Linked DNA regions of Homo sapiens: all the other regions are reported to be linked to region 4. Evidence: microRNA targets listed by miRTarBase, many of them from high-throughput screens and not tested one by one. Region 4 holds a microRNA gene; each other region holds the end of a gene's coding sequence.

What was found. Region 4 holds the annotated microRNA hsa-miR-1304-3p (UCUCACUGUAGCCUCGAACCCC, at 1,374-1,395, opposite strand). A microRNA usually pairs through its seed, bases 2 to 8, with sites in the 3' UTR of a target mRNA and lowers its output. Matches are read on the target gene's strand: a 7mer-m8 pairs with bases 2 to 8, a 7mer-A1 pairs with bases 2 to 7 and ends in A, and an 8mer does both.
Region 1: miRTarBase lists TIMELESS as a target of hsa-miR-1304-3p. Seed matches in the 3' UTR shown: 7mer-m8 at 1,560-1,566.
Region 2: miRTarBase lists PRRT3 as a target of hsa-miR-1304-3p. Seed matches in the 3' UTR shown: 7mer-m8 at 3,156-3,162 and 7mer-A1 at 3,111-3,117.
Region 3: miRTarBase lists PARVB as a target of hsa-miR-1304-3p. Seed matches in the 3' UTR shown: 7mer-m8 at 3,124-3,130 and 7mer-A1 at 3,168-3,174.

What each region holds. Positions count from the first base shown.
Region 1 is chr12:56,414,303-56,418,360 of GRCh38, reverse strand. It overlaps TIMELESS (timeless circadian regulator), which reads left to right. Exons shown (of 29, transcript NM_003920.5): 27 at 2-227; 28 at 353-454; 29 at 575-1,998. The coding sequence ends at 645. Among named protein-coding and RNA genes, the nearest start is that of TIMELESS, 33 kb to the left of the region's middle.
Region 2 is chr3:9,942,751-9,946,808 of GRCh38, forward strand. PRRT3 (proline rich transmembrane protein 3) reads right to left here. Exons shown (of 4, transcript NM_207351.5): 4 at 2,792-4,058. The coding sequence ends at 3,477. CRELD1 (CRELD disulfide isomerase 1) reads left to right here. Exons shown (of 11, transcript NM_001077415.3): 8 at 63-146; 9 at 327-422; 10 at 631-765; 11 at 1,615-2,656. The coding sequence ends at 1,829. Among named protein-coding and RNA genes, the nearest start is that of PRRT3-AS1, 2.6 kb to the right of the region's middle. RefSeq lists an enhancer at 2,922-3,584.
Region 3 is chr22:44,168,312-44,172,369 of GRCh38, forward strand. It overlaps PARVB (parvin beta), which reads left to right. Exons shown (of 13, transcript NM_013327.5): 13 at 291-4,058. The coding sequence ends at 367. Among named protein-coding and RNA genes, the nearest start is that of PARVG, 11 kb to the right of the region's middle. RefSeq lists an enhancer at 1,786-2,307.
Region 4 is chr11:93,732,318-93,736,382 of GRCh38, forward strand. MIR1304 (microRNA 1304) reads right to left here and starts at 1,447; the gene lies at 1,357-1,447. It overlaps TAF1D (TATA-box binding protein associated factor, RNA polymerase I subunit D), which reads right to left. Exons shown (of 6, transcript NM_024116.4): 6 at 3,250-3,987. The coding sequence ends at 3,844. It overlaps SNORA8 (small nucleolar RNA, H/ACA box 8), which reads right to left and starts at 182; the gene lies at 44-182. SNORD5 (small nucleolar RNA, C/D box 5) reads right to left here and starts at 983; the gene lies at 911-983. It also overlaps SNORA18 and SNORA40.

The DNA.
Region 1 (4,058 bases), not on the chromosome of region 4:
GGAAACCTTCTGGCGAATTCCAGCCAAGCTGAGTCCTACCCAGCTCCGGAGGGCAGCAGCTTCTTTGAGTCAACCAGAGGAGGAACAGAAGCTGCAGCCAGAGCTGCAGCCTAAAGTCCCTGGAGAGCAAGGCTCTGATGAGGAGCACTGTAAAGAGCACCGAGCACAAGCCCTGAGGGCCCTCTTGCTAGCCCACAAGAAGAAAGCGGGCCTGGCATCCCCAGAGGGTAATAGTGCGACAGCCATCTTCTGAGTATTAACGTGTCAGCCATGTTGGTCTAGAGGGCAGGAAAGGTGTTCTGAGAATATGAGGACCGAGTTCCTAATTTTGTGTCATTTATGGTCATTGCAGAGGAAGACGCTGTTGGTAAAGAGCCGCTGAAGGCAGCACCCAAGAAACGACAATTGCTGGACAGCGACGAGGAACAGGAAGAAGATGAGGGCAGGAACAGAGGTAGGGAATTTGATGGGACCTTCTTTTTCTTCTCTAATCCTGAAGACAAACTCTACCACGTCCTTACCCCTTAACATATTTAGATATTCTCTCTCTCTCTCACCCCCATCGTTCCCACAGCACCAGAGTTGGGAGCTCCAGGAATCCAAAAGAAGAAACGATACCAGATTGAGGATGATGAGGATGACTGAAGAGCTAAGAAGCCTAGGGGTAGAGATAGACACGTTTTTAGATGGTGCATTCAAGTCAGAGTTGGAAGGGTCATACAGGACCCAGAAGCTCCTCTTACTGGACAGAGCAGTAGAATCCCAGGCTCTTTCACGGATTTAGGCTGAGAAACTTCAGCAGCAGTATTGGACTTCTCTGCTGTCAGTCTTTGTTTCTCCCAGTTTTTATCGGTATGCCCCAGCAGCTCTCTGGAGATTTAGTTCTCTTCTTCTAGGAACCATTTCTTTTGGTTATTGGAGCTCCTTAGCAAATAAGAGGAGTGAGTGAAATAGAGAAAGCACCCCGGACCCCTTTTATTGGTCTGTTCCTTTGGCTTTCTCTTGGAGGTGGGTCGCAGCACCAGATGGGGAGCTTTATGACATGACAGGCGGGAGTTTTGTACCACTTTTAGAAGATACCAGATGCCTCTGTCCTCATTTTGTTTCCTATGATCATCCTCTAGATACCAGATAGAGGCCCATTCCTGCATTTGAGATAGGGTTGGAATATAGTACTCTAGATGATGAATGTGTTTGCTTTGTGTTTGGTATTAAACATGTAAGATTAGAAGTTCTCATCTCAGTCTGACTTGGCGATATGTCTAAGTTCCCCAGCCCTTCCCCTGCTGTGCTCTTGAAAGAAGAACTTAACAATTTTAGGGTAAAAAGAGACCAACAGACCGGCACAGTGGCTCAAACCTGTTGTCCTAGCACTTTGGGAGGCTGAGGCGGGCGGATCACCTGAGGTCAGGAGTTTGAGACCGGCCTGGACAATATGGCGAAATCCCATCTCCACTAAAAATACAAAAATTAGCCGGCCATGGTGGCATGCGCCTGTAATCCCAGCCACTCGGGTGGCTGAGGCAGGAGAATTGCCTGAACCCAGGAGGCAGAGGTTGCAGTGAGCTAAGGTCACGCCAGTGCATATGCCTGGGCGACAGAGCAAGACTCTGTCTCAAAAAAAAAGAAAAAAAAAAAAGACCAACAACCTTCCCTTTTCTTCCGCTTTCCCTACAGAAGACACAGAAAAGCATTTTTGCCTCTAGATCCTTTTGTCTAGGGTAAATTCTTAGGGTGACAAGAGTATGCGGCAGGAAGAAGGAGGAGCCATAAAGGAAGAGAAGCCAGCTTGTTGGCATGGGGCATAGAAAAGGACAAAATCTAGGCATGAAAAGGATGGATAAATACTGCAAATATTATGTTCTTACCCATTCTTGGAAACGTCAGCTTTCTTGCTTCCTGTGCTTCCAGCCGAGGTAGGGCAAAGGTGAGATTGAGAAAATAGCCATTCAGCTCAGGAAGGCTTCTAAGTAAAGGATGGATTTGGATTGCCCTGTTGCTTTGACTTTTCATTTTTATTTTTTCCTGAAAAGATGAGGATCTCCCATAGCCTCTAAAAGTGGGAGTGAAGCTATTTCCATGGTAATTGAAGTTTCCAAGGGCTAGACACTTTCTAGCTCTGGCCAGTCTTGGTGTCTCTTCATCCTGAGCTTTTCTTCACTTCGCAACCTGAGCACTGCTTCCTTCCAGCAGGGCTGCTCTGTTTTCCCTCCATGATCCGGGCTGTGCTGCTCCTTTGCTGTGTCCTGCTGTCCCCAGTATCTGCCTTTTTTTTTTTTTTTTTTTTTGGAGACGAAGTCTCGCTCTGTCACCCAGGCTGGAGTGTGGCAGCATGATCTCGGCTCGCTGCAGCCTCTGCCTGCCAGGTTCAAGTGATTCTCTTGCCTCGGCTTCCCAAGTAGCTGAAATTACAGGTACGAGCCACCACGCCCCGCAAATTTTTTGTATTTTTAGTAGAGACAGGATTTCACCACGTTGGCCAGGCTGGTCTTGAACTCCTGACCGAAGGTGATCCGCCTGCCTTGGCCTCCCAAAGTGCTGGGATTACAAGCGTGAGCCACCGTGCTCGGCCTAGCAGCTGCCTTTTTTTTTTTTTTTTTTCTTTTTTGTGATGGAATCTCACTCTGTCACCCGGGCTGGAGTGCAGTGGCGCAGTATCAGTTCACTGCAACCTCTGGCTCCTGGGTTCAAACAATTCTCCTGCCTCAGCCTCCTGAGTAGCTGGGATTACAAGCATGCACCACCACACCTGGCTAATTTTTGTATTTTTAGTAAAGATGGGGGTTCATCATGTTGACCAGGCTGGTCTGGAACTCCTGACCTCAAATGATCCTCCCACCTCAGCCTCCCAAAGTGCTTGAGCCACCGCATGAGCCGGTGGCGTGATTACAGGCATGAGCCACCGCATCCGGCCGTGGCTGCCTTTCTAAGAAATGTCCAGAACTGGACCCTGACTTTCCATCCCTCTTTGAAATTTCCAGCTCCAGTTTCTTCTAGCAGTGTTTATCAGTATAGAAAATTTACTATGTATTGGCCGGGCATGGTGGCTCACACCTGTAATCCCAGCACTTTGGGAGGCCGAGATGGGAGAATGACAAGGTCAGGAGATCGAGACACTGGCTAACACGGTGAAACCCCATCTCTACTAAAAATATAAAAAATAGCCAGGCATGGTGGCGGGCACCTGTAGCCCAGCTACTCAGGAGACTGAGGCAGGAGAATGGCGTGAACCCAAGAGGCAGAGGTTGCAGTGAGCTGAGATCGCACCACTGCACTCCAGCCTGGGTGACAGAGCGAGACTCCGTCTCAAAAAAAGAAAAAAAAAAAAGAAAATTTACTATTTATTAGGCACAAGAGGTATTTTTGTCCTTTTCCGTTTATTTACCCTTTGGAAATTTTTAAATGAGAAGAGGAGTAAAAAGCTATTTCTTACATATTTGAATCACAGCCGTCTGATTTCTCCTTATTCTGGGTCTCTTGGATTAAGCTGGGAATGTGGGAGCAAGAGGTAGATACTGCTTTTGCGGCATTTCTGACACCTAAACAAGCTCTGATTAGTCAGTACATATCAATTCAGGTATAGATTGGGAGAACCTATAGATCACGATGACAGTCACACATGTATGAAAGGGAGAAAGAGAAAAATTACAGTGCTACTCAGAAAATCTTGGCCAAGTTGATACAGAGCCCCAGAATGAAGATTACATGACTGAGGAGTCCCATGTCTGGCCGACTTGGCTGGGCTCTAGCACTGTCCACCTGTCATTGTCTCAGAGCAGCCTGTAGAGAGGGATGCTGCTGTGATCACTGCAGAACATTCTAAAGAGTGGAAGCTGTCGGCCAAATAGAATGTTCACTCTGTGTTCTCTTGAAGGGAGATCTGAGCAGAACACCACAGGGCAAATAGGCAAATGTTTGCCAAAATTGTGCCCTTACTGACCTTAGAGACAAGCAACTGTCCCCTCTCATGAGACAGAGAACTGGGACTGGAATAACCTACCTGGGAAAGCCCACCTCTCACTGACTACCCTCTGGTAATTTGGTGCTCTCAAATATTT
Region 2 (4,058 bases), not on the chromosome of region 4:
TCTGGCTTCAGCTTCCCTACTAAATAGGGATTGAAATTCTCACCCTGCTCACCTCTCTGCAGACATTGATGAGTGTGGCACAGAGGGAGCCAACTGTGGAGCTGACCAATTCTGCGTGAACACTGAGGGCTCCTATGAGTGCCGAGGTCAGTGTCTACTTCTGCAGAGGAGGGGACGTGAGGAGTGGAGGAAGAGCTGCTCCACACCTGTCCCTCCAAACCTTCCCCTTCTCAGGCTTCAGAGCACCCCCAGGCCTCCGCTTCTGGAGCGTGGCTCCCCTGGGCCTAGGTGCACATCTCACCCTCATCTTTCTCTCCTCTCTCCAGACTGTGCCAAGGCCTGCCTAGGCTGCATGGGGGCAGGGCCAGGTCGCTGTAAGAAGTGTAGCCCTGGCTATCAGCAGGTGGGCTCCAAGTGTCTCGGTGAGTCTCCTGCTGATGGGACACAGGCACCTGGGAGTGCCTCACCCAGCATGAATGGTGAAGAGGCTGGAATATGGGCAGGTGGGGGAAGGAAGGGTGGAATGTTGCCTGGGCAAGGGCAGAGGGGAGTGTTGAGAGATGGACAAGATGGAGTCAGGGTGCTGGGTGGGGGGCCCTAGCAGGACTCTGACCCCTCCCTCCCCTCAAGATGTGGATGAGTGTGAGACAGAGGTGTGTCCGGGAGAGAACAAGCAGTGTGAAAACACCGAGGGCGGTTATCGCTGCATCTGTGCCGAGGGCTACAAGCAGATGGAAGGCATCTGTGTGAAGGAGCAGATCCCAGGTGAGCCCTGGGGCGGGAGAGGGGAGGTCCTCATTCAAAGAGAAGGCAGGCAAGCCCCTTCCCCAGGTAGCAGTGGCAGCTCCAGGCCCTGCCCCATCCCTACTGCCACCCAGCCCCCTGGAGGCTGCACTGAGACCGGGCTCTACATCTGATCTCCAGGTTGGCTCTCAGCAGCCTTATACCTTCCAGGGTACAAAGGGAATCAGACCTGGCATCAAATCAGTCTGCCTCCTTAACCTGTTTCCTCATCTATCCAATGGGACCAGTGTTTGCCCTGGCCTGCTGAGAGCTGTCCTAGGCCGGGGGTGTGGTGAGATGCAGGGTAATCACAACGATGATGGCAGGGACCATTTCCCCAGCAATTACTGTGTCAGATGCTGTTCTAGGTGCATTCCCCATCTTAACTGATTTAACCCCTGAAACAACCCGACGCTGGAAGTTGGGTTCTCATCCCCACTCTACATATGTAAAAATGAAGATGCAGAGAGATGAAGCTACTTTCCCAGGGCTATATGGCAAGCAAGTCGCAAAGCTGGGATCCCAATCCAGACAGTCTGACCGTGGAACGAGACTCATACACGTAATAAATGCTCTGCCCCCAACTTGTCCACCACATGGCCTTGGCAAGTCCAACCCCTTTACCTCTCTGAGCCTCACTTTCCCATTTAGTGAGACAGGGATGGTAACTGCCCCTTGCAGGGTGGTTTTGAGCAGTAAATGTAGTGTGCCTGGCTTGCTGGGCAGGCCTGGTGGCCATGATGATCAGGTGTGTGGGAGTTCTGGGGAGACTCCAAGAACTACCAGGAACAGGGATACGAGTGCCAGGCTGCATCTCTTGCTCCTCTGCAGAGTCAGCAGGCTTCTTCTCAGAGATGACAGAAGACGAGTTGGTGGTGCTGCAGCAGATGTTCTTTGGCATCATCATCTGTGCACTGGCCACGCTGGCTGCTAAGGGCGACTTGGTGTTCACCGCCATCTTCATTGGGGCTGTGGCGGCCATGACTGGCTACTGGTTGTCAGAGCGCAGTGACCGTGTGCTGGAGGGCTTCATCAAGGGCAGATAATCGCGGCCACCACCTGTAGGACCTCCTCCCACCCACGCTGCCCCCAGAGCTTGGGCTGCCCTCCTGCTGGACACTCAGGACAGCTTGGTTTATTTTTGAGAGTGGGGTAAGCACCCCTACCTGCCTTACAGAGCAGCCCAGGTACCCAGGCCCGGGCAGACAAGGCCCCTGGGGTAAAAAGTAGCCCTGAAGGTGGATACCATGAGCTCTTCACCTGGCGGGGACTGGCAGGCTTCACAATGTGTGAATTTCAAAAGTTTTTCCTTAATGGTGGCTGCTAGAGCTTTGGCCCCTGCTTAGGATTAGGTGGTCCTCACAGGGGTGGGGCCATCACAGCTCCCTCCTGCCAGCTGCATGCTGCCAGTTCCTGTTCTGTGTTCACCACATCCCCACACCCCATTGCCACTTATTTATTCATCTCAGGAAATAAAGAAAGGTCTTGGAAAGTTAAAAGGCATCAGTCTTACTACCTGTCCCACCACCCCCACCTTAGGGAAATGTCCTAGAATCCTGGGAAATTGAGGGCTTCTTTGATGGTGAGTGGAGAAAAGATAGAGGAGAAGGTTGCCCCTGAAGTGCTGTTAGGAGAAGGAGGATAGAGGAATCAGCCTTAGGAGGGTTCCATGCCAGCTGTCATTTGGCAAAGGACCCTGGACAGATGACTTTTGCCTCTGAACTTCACTCTTCTCTTTCCTCAAATGGGCTTCATAATGCTTTCCACTCAGGCTTAACATGAGAATTAAATGAGGTGACAAATGTGAAGACCTGGACAGTACACAACAGATATTCAATAAAAGTGTGGTCGCCATTATGACCAGAGCCTCCAAGCCTCAAGCAACCTTTCCTCGGAGTCCTGCTCTCCGTCCAATACACAGGACTTAGAATGACTGGGAGGCAGGGCCTCCAGTCTCTCCTTCCTCCTATGAGTACAGGATCCTGGCATGGCCAGAGGGAAGCATGAGCCAAGTCCTAAGGGTTTATTTCTTTGGCACAAAGAGGACAATCTAGACAAGCGAGGCTCATCACTCCACGTTGGGGAGTCTGGGGCACCTGCTCCCTGTTCTTCATGCCCGAATCCATGCACACCCACCCTGTATTCCGCATAAGACACGGCCTCTGTGCAAAATGCCGGCTGAAAAAAAAATAGAAATATTAAAAGCAAAAAACGGCATGGGGGTGGGGTGAGTTCAAACCTGGCTGTCCCCCGGGGGTTGCCGTCAGGTAGAGAGGCCTGGGGATGCCTTTTTTTTTTTTTTTTTTTTTTTTTTTTTTGAGACGGAGTCTCACTCTTGTCACCCAGGCTGGAGTGCAATGGCGTGGTCTCGGCTCACTGCAACCTCTGCCTCCCTGTTCAAGCAATTCTCCCGCCTCAGCCTCCCGAGTAGCTGGGACTACAGGCGTGTGCCACCTGGCTAATTTTTTTGTATTTTTAGTAGAGACGAGGGTTTCGCTATGTTCGAGACCAGGAGGCTGATCTCGAACTCCTGACCTCGTGTTCCACCCACCTCGGCCTCCCAAAGTGCTGGGATTCCTGGCGTGAGCCACCGCGCCTGGCCAGGATGCCCATTTTTTAAAGGCTCAACTGTCCCAGTAGGCCATGCCATGTGGGCATCGGGCAGGGTCCTGGCCCTGCGTCAGGACCGCTCTTCAAAGCTCGATGGTATCACTGGAGGCGCTGCGGGATTCCCCAGGCTTGCCGCGCGGCTGGACCTCTCCCTGGCCGTCCCCCTGCCGAGCGGCGGTAGAATCAGGGGCTGGGGTCGGGGCAGGCAGTAGCTGTACCGTGCTGGGCAACTCATCTAGGGGCAGACTGTCCACTGATGACAGCCCGTGGCGCCAGGGGTTCCAACTGATCTTGAGTGAACCCCTGGAGAAGCTGTCGAGGGAGCTGCCAGAAGCCGCAGCGGCTGCCCCGTCGGGTGCTTCCACTACGTGCTGTGGGACCGGCCCGCGCACGCGCACGTCGCTGAGCGACCTGCAGCGGCCGCGGAGGAGCGAGGAGCCAGCGTCGTCGAGCTCGGCTTTGGGATGGCTGCCCCGGCGCGGCCGCAGAGCGCCTCCAGGCGGCGGGGAGGCCAGGCCGCGGAGGCCGCAGCGCTGGAACACACTGTCTCGCACTAGGTGCTCGCGGAAGAGCGCGGCGTCGATGCTGCGGCTCAGGTTGATGGGCGATGGCGGCCGCAGATCCAGCTCGCTCAGCGATGGCGCCGGTCCCACACCGTTGCGGGA
Region 3 (4,058 bases), not on the chromosome of region 4:
ACATGTCCTGATGCAGATCCAGGAGGGGCTGTGGGAGTGTCTCTGTTCTTGTCACCCCAGGTGCCTGTCCCCGCAGGGTGTCAGCCCGCGCCAGGAGCTCTCACAAAACCTGTGTGTCTGGGGAGGCACTGCCCAGAGCGTCCTGGACATGGTGGTGGCCAGTCTTTAAGGGGAAGCGCTGTGTGTGGATGCGGCAGCTGGTGTCATGCTGGAGACGTGGCTTCTGAGAGTACCTACCGCAATGACAGGAGGATGGCACGCCTCTGAAGTTTCTCTGTTTCCTTCTGCAGACGTGGTTAACTTGGACCTCAAATCCACCCTGAGGGTTCTTTACAACCTGTTCACCAAGTACAAGAACGTGGAGTGACGGGGGAGCTGTGGATGGTGGCAGGAGTGTCCCAGCAAGAAAGGCGGCATCCGTCTGTGCCCTGTGCCTTTCCAGGGAGCCAGGCGCCATGGGCTTCTGGTCCAAGCTGTGTTGACTGTCATCCCCACCCCACCCCTACCTCACGCCTGCCCCACCCCCTGCCTCTTTTGGTTGTTGTTCTTAATCTCCTCTCCATGTAGTTCCCAGTGGGCAAGAGCCTTTGAAAATGCAGGATTCTAAACACTCGTGCTTGCGTTTGAAGCCTCGCGTCACTCAGTCGCGTGGGATGATGAGTCCGTTGTTGTCTGCCTTGGCCGAAAGATGAAAAAAAGCCTGAACCCCAACCCCCAGCTGGTTGAGAGCACCCTGCATTCTGCCTCATGGTGCAGTTAGCGATCACAGGCCTTCAGAAGTACAACATCAGCTCAGCAGGAACGCCGGCTCCCCGAGGACCCAGGCTTGACGATTCACCGGGGATCTCCTGGGCTGGGCTCTCCTTGGAAGTGAGGCCTTTTATTAAAAATAAAAGGGTTTTGCAGTTTGAAAAACTTTAAAGTCCCAGAAGCTTAGATGTGACATGGGTGTCCTCCACCCACATTCCTATCACTTCTTGGTCACTCGTTTTAATGTAGGTTTTGCACAAACATCCAAGACTCAGGATGGCCCAGCTCCCACAGTCCTTGAAAGGAGCTGTCTGCTGGGGACGTTTCTTAATTTCTTGCTGTGGTTGAGGGGCTGGGTCTGGAGATGGCTCTAATTGTGCTGCTTGAGACAGCTTGGGTCACAGCTTTCCCCTTCAGAGGCCCTTTTTGGGAATGAATGCATCTTTGGAAACTTTAAAATGAGGGGGGTGCATTGGTTCACTGGCACTGTGTAGTAAAGTGCCACAGGGGAGTGGCTCAGACATCAGAGAATTACATCCTCAGGCCTTTCGCCTTGGCTTGTAGATGCCGGCTTCTCCCCGTGTCTTCACATGGTCTCCCCTCTGTGTGTCTGTGTCCTCACCGCCTCTTTTATTTTATTTTTTATTTTTGTTTTTATTTTTTGAGACAGAGTCTCGCTCTGTCACCAGGCTGGAGTGCAGTGGTGTGATCTCAGCTCACTGCAACCTCTGCCTCCCAGGTTCAAGCGATTCTCCTGCCTCAGCCTCCCAAGTAGCTGGCATTACAGGCAGGTGCCACCACACCTGGCTAATTTTTGTATTTTTAGTAGAGACGGGGTTTCACCATGTTGGCCAGGATGGTCTTGATCTCCTGACCTCATGATCTGCCTGCCTCAGCCTCCCAAAGTGTTGGGATTACAGGCGTGAGCCACTGTGCCCAGCCTATTTTTTTTTTTTTTTTTGAGACAAGTTCTCACTGTGTCACCCAGGAGTAAAGTGGTGCCATCTCAGCTCACTGCAGCCTTGATCTCCCAGGCTCAATTGATCCTCCCACCTCAGCCTCCCAAGTAGCGGGGACCACAAGTGCACACCACTAGGCCCATCTAATTTTTGTATTTTTTGTAGAGATGGGGTTTCACCATGTTGCCCAGGCTGTTCTCAAACCCCTGGGCTTGAGCGACCCACCCACCTCAGCCTCCCAAAGTGCTGGGATTATAGGCATGAGCGGACATGCCCAGCCTGCACCCCTCTTTTTAGAAGGGCTGCGGTCCTATTGGATTAGGGCCCACTTATATGACCTCATTTAATCTTGATTACCTCCATAAAGACCCTGTCTCCAAATACCATCACATCAGAGGTGCTGGGGTTAGGACTTCAGCATGTGGATTTGTGGGGGGCATAATTTGCCTTGTACCGGGAGGATATGAAGTGTTCATGTTACTCTCCCTGTAGCCCTGAGAGCATCTCCCTTAGAGTATCCTATAAAAGGAGTCGCTGCTCACTCAGTTATGGGTTGTTCACCCCCTCGCTCACCCCAGCTCTGCAGAGAACTGGGGATCCCATCGGCCATGCTTTCTGGGCTGGCCTCTGGTCGCAGTCAGTCCCTCGCTGTGGCGCCCCCCCCTCCCCCAGCTCCTTCCCAGGGTGATGACCCGCTGACCCCCTGGGGTGCACCTGCTGCAAAGCAGCCCCCTTCCTTGGCATCTCTCAGCATTCTCCGTAGTGAGCCTGGCCTTTCTGATCTTGTTAGCTTTTTGTCTTCCTGCCGCAGATCAGAGCTTTGGAGTAAGTTTTGATATGAAATCGAATGCCAACACCGAAGTTTTAGAAAACAGTTTAATATTCCCTCTCAGTTCCGGCTGTTGCTAGGCTGGGGATGGGTTCAGAATAGCCATTTTGATGGAGGTGATTTCCCAGCAGGGGAAAGAAATAATTAAAACAGCATTACGGTGTCTCTTGCGGGATGCAGTGACATTCAAAAGCCACACTGACAAAAAGCCTGGGGCTGGAACGTTCTGTGCTGCCTGCATGGCATGTACAGGACCGCGGCCCCCTGGAGCTGGTGGAGTGGCCCAGCCTTGCCCTGCTCACAGGTGGACCTGGAGAGGGCACTGTGCCTTCCCAGGGATTGGGATTTGAAAAGAACAGAGCTTGGCCAGGTGCGGTGGCTCACGCCTGTAATCCCAGCACTTTGGGAGGCTGAGGCAGGTGGATCACTTGGGGTCAGAAGTTCGAGACCAGCCTGGCCAACATGGTGAAACCCCATGTCTACTAAAAATACAAAAATTAGCCATGCATGGTATGTATGCCTGTAATCCCAGCTATTCGGGAGGCTGAGGCAGGAGAATTGCATGAACCCAGGAGGTGGAAGTTGCAGTGAGCTGAGATCATGCCACTGCACTCCAGCCTGAGCAACAGAGTGAGACTCTGTCTCAAAAAAAAAAAAGAAAGAAAAAAGAAAAAGAAAAGAACAGAGCTGTGATTTTCAGCCAAAATGAGCAGCCCTGGCCCATTCTGTGTCATCAGAGGGGAGAGGACGGTTACTGTGGGAGGGGGCTTCAGCTTCTCAGGGAGGTCCTGGCGGCCCCCATCTAGTAAACCAGTAAACCCATGCCTATCCTCATGCCCACGTCACACTCTTGTGGGTTTCAAGTCGAACAGTAAAAGGAATCATAAGATCTGTGGGGAAGCTACATGGGCACTTGTGTTTCACAACAGGGACCCTTAAAGGCGATGTTTCCAGCAAAGGATGTGATTTTTTTTTTTTTTTTTTTTGAGATAAGTTCTCACTGCGTTGCCCAGGCTGGAGTGCAGTGGTCATTCACAGACACACACATAGCAGACTACAGACTACAGCCTTGAACTCCTGGGCTCAAGTGATCCACCCACTTCTGTATCCTGAGTCCCTGGAACGGCAGGTGCACACCACCGCACCCGGCTTGGATGTGATCTTTTGTCCACATTCTTTTCCAATTGGTTCAAAGGTGTAGGTGTGCCTTTTGCATACCTGGGAAGGGCCCCATTAGGCTCGACTCCTCATTTTTCTCCATTCACCATCAGTTTGAGTCTGAATTCATAGCATGGCCTGGACAGATGCAGCAAGGGGCCAGTTCCAAGGCAGAATTCAGGGTGAACTCGATTCCTATAGGCTTGGGATGAATGGCTGCTGGGACATGAGGCTTGGGTGTGAGATGCCCCGTCTGCTGCTGCTCTTGGTTCTTAGTTCAGAGAAATTCTGGGACCCTTCCTCCTCCCGGCACCACGTTTTCAGTGAATGGTTCTTTGAAGAGGAACCCTGGTCCATAGGAA
Region 4 (4,065 bases):
TTTAGAGTATATCAAACTGAACACTCTGAGAAACCTACACAAATACTGTATCAGTAGAAATACCAGGTTTAACAAGCACAAAGCCAAGAAAACCAACGATGCCAGATACTGAATTTCTATAGCACTGACCTTTGAACACCCTAGCAGGTGTAAACTGCTGAGTGCAGATACCATGCAGTGCAATTATGACTGAACTGTACAACTCGTATTCCCAAATTTGCAATATTGCTGAGAAATGCTTTCACAAACCTCTCAAATTCCTTTAACAAGTACAATAATTTGAGCTTTTTTCCTAATTGTCACTGTAATAAGGAAGCTACATTAACTACATTTTAAGCTACAACTCTAGTCTTTGCCTAATCTTTGCCCAGTCTCTCTATAAAACTTAAAGATGGAATATATACATGTAACTTAACAGATCAGACAACAAACGTCAAGCTCATTGTTGCTCAAACTGCCAGTTACACAAAATTCTTTTTATGTAATTCATATCCCTATTGATTCAACATATCCACACAGGTTTACGTGACTTTAGGATGAAATATGTGTAACTGCCAGTTGAATAATGATGCAAAGAACACAGGTAGTTTCGTTTGGTAGGTATAGACATGCAGTCTCTTCATTTTCCTTCTCTATACAAATATATACATTGTAATATTTTTGCCAGTATCTTACTAATTCTGTGTTATACCTGAAATACTGGGATGGTGTAATTTCTATTTTTCATCTTTTGAGTCCTTGATTATTATAAGTTAAATATTTTACTTACCTCTCAACATGAATGAGTTCAAATCACATTCATTCCTATAGAAAGTACCAATTAAAGATTTAGAAAGGATACATTTCCAGTTATTAAAACTAAAACCCAAGTATAAATTTAAGATCCAGTTTATTATACAGCCATATCCAGCTCTGTCAGAATTAAGTTTTAGTTCATGCCCGTTATCATTCAGCAGTTGAACAGTTAAATTCATCATCTGAACTGTAATCATTATTTCCCAAAAGATTATACTGTCACCAATTAAAACTTACCTAAGCGATCACTCAAGAATGGTACAGATGTGTGGAGTATGCCAATACCTAAGGTAAAAAAGTAGATTATCTGGTTTTTCATAACGTTTAGCAACCGTCTTTTTCAAACTTTTAGCAACTGTCTTGTAATTCCTTCCCACAGATCTAACAATAGTCCTGTGAGTAAAGTAAAACCACAGAGTTACTCTATGAGGCGTTTCCAACGATGTGCAGGCTACAGGAAAAGCCCCATCGGGATAGACCTCAACCACTATTTACAAGGTTTTGATTTTTTTTTAAAGACACAGGATCTGCCATGTCTTTTAAAAATCGTGTGATTCTTGCTGAATCACTTGAGCCCAGGGGTTCGAGGCTACAGTGAGATGTGGCAGGATCACATCTCACTGTAGCCTCAAACCGCTGGGCTCAAGTGTTTCTCCTGCCTTAGCCTCCAGAGTAGCTGGGGACCACAGGCACCACTGTGTCCAGCTAGTATTTATACACATAAATAACAAAGTCTAACACTCCATAGGAAAGAAATTATGAGCAGAAACTGCAATATGCTCTTACAATATTGCCAACTGCAGAAACTTCCTACTACGTTAATCACAAAAACAATAATTTCACAATCACGTTGTGCTTAGGAGCCAGAGGAATGATAAATAAAAAGTAACATCAAGTAGCTCCTTTACATGAACCAAAGGAAAAAGATTTAAACTTAAGATTTAAGTTTAAAGTCTAACTGTTGTTATGAACTTCAGTATTGCAACAGAGGATGTTGTTTTCCCAATTCGAAGATTTCAGCAAATTTTAATTCTTGGCTCAAAATTAATTGTCATCCATTATAAAATACAGGAATATAATGTGCCTGTAAGTTACGACTTTGGCATTATATAACTTTTAATCAAACTCTACATCATTCAAATTTATGAATTCTTATGACCTGTGTAATCATCTTTTATTATACTATATTTTGCATTAAACCATAAAATCCTCTGCCTCATTTTAGATTGTGCATTAATTCAAAATAATGCTGTAGGCTTCAAGTAGGAAATCCAAAGTTCTGATTATTGCTACAAACTAACAAATTCAGGACCCTCTAATGCTTGCAACTAAAATGAATCTGACACATCACTATAAAATGTGTGAATCTAGGATTCTTCTTTTCAGAAATCAGTATAAATGGGAATTAAAAGCATGGTAGAAATGTCCCTGAATAAAATGAAACTTGCTCTGACAACATACTGTTTCCTACACATAAACAAATATGATGTGAAAACTCAAATTGAGACATACCTTTAACTCCAGACACCATGTTCTCAAGATAAAAGCCTTTAAAACAAAAAGCCATTGTGTATATCATCAACATGAAATTGGAATGCAAAATTAATACTGCTGAGGATTTCCCTCATATCCCATGCTGTTTATCTATTCTACAGGCCTGGAATCAACCTTTTTTTCTTAAGAGACAGGGTCTGTCTTTGTTACTCAGGCTGGAGTACAGTGGTGCCATCAAAGCTCAGTGCAGCCTCCAACTCTGCCTCAGCCTCCCCCCTTTCTGAGTAACTCCAACTACAGGCACATGCCCCAGTACCCAGCTAATTTTTAAATTTTTGTGGAGATGTGTTTCTTACTTTCTTGCCTAGGCTGGTCTTGAACTCCTGGTTTCAAGCAATACTCCCACCTTGGTGTGGGGATTGCAGGCTTGACCCATTGCACCTGGCCTGGAACCAACCTTTATGGCTATCAATACTCCCATCAATCAACTGTCTCAGGTATCATAATATCCCTTCTTATATGTATCAAAACTCATACTGAACAATGAGTTCTGGGTTGCAAAAGAGGATTTATTTTTTGCACCTATCTGTAAGTCTTTGTCCACGTTAAACAAAAACATACATAAGTGCAGTCCCAAAATGCACTACATAGCAGAGTAGTCAGCTCTATCGTGGTGATCAAAATAATGAACATCGGGGTAATGACTGGTTCTCCCCAGGTATACATGTTGAATAAATGTGTATGCCTTTTCTTGAACTAATAAAAAGTGAAAATGGTAGTTAAAAGTAGTATTAGGCCAGGTGCCATGGCTCACACCTATAATCCCAGCATTTTGGGAGGCCAAGGCAGGCGGATCGCCTGAGGTCAGGAGTTCGAGACCATGGTGAAAGCCTGTCTCTACTAAAAAAACAAAAACTAGCTGGGTGTGCTGGCTAACGCCTGTAATCCCAGCTACTAAGGAGGCTGAGGCAGAATCGCTTGAACCCGGGAGATGGAGGTTGCAGTAAGCCAAGACTGCGGCCATTGCACTACAGCCTGGGTGACAGATCGAGACTCTGTCTAAAAAAAATAGTATTAAAGATACTCTAAATTTGGAAAGGGAAATGAGGTTATTACAATACTAAGCATCTGACAGGTCACTTGTCATGGCTGAACAAAGCTGGGATAAAATTACAGCATTTCAAATCCCCTCTTCAAGATGGTTGGGTGTCAAGTTACTTTAAGATTTTCTTTTCAAAATTAAAATCACTACATTTCATTGTTTCAATACTCACAGGACACCTGTAAGCTCTTATTCAGAAATCAAATGACAATTTCTCAAATTTTTCTATGTATTTTCTCTGGTGTTTTAATGGTTTTTTTTCTAATTATTACTACTTCACAAGTTTCTTTCACAAACTTCTTCACAGGGTTAAAAATTTTTTTTCTTGTTATAAAGTTCTGGGTTTCAGAATTTCTTCACCACCAGACTGGTACATATATCCACATTTATCTTTATTCATTTCTATGAAGTCGTTTTTTCTATATGCTTCACCTTTGACATTCATGATCCTGTCACATTTTCAGGCCTCTCTGTCCAGTATTTTTGGCTTTTGTAGCTCTCTTTTTAGACAAAGCAGCTTCTTCAGTAATATCCTCTTCTTCTAAGTATACACTCAGTCTTACAGGGAATTCAGAACTTACTATGAAACTATCCCCCTGCATAAAACAAACAAAAAATCATGGATTAAGCAATAACTCAAATAGTTTAGTAATTACATATAGCTGAATGCCCTG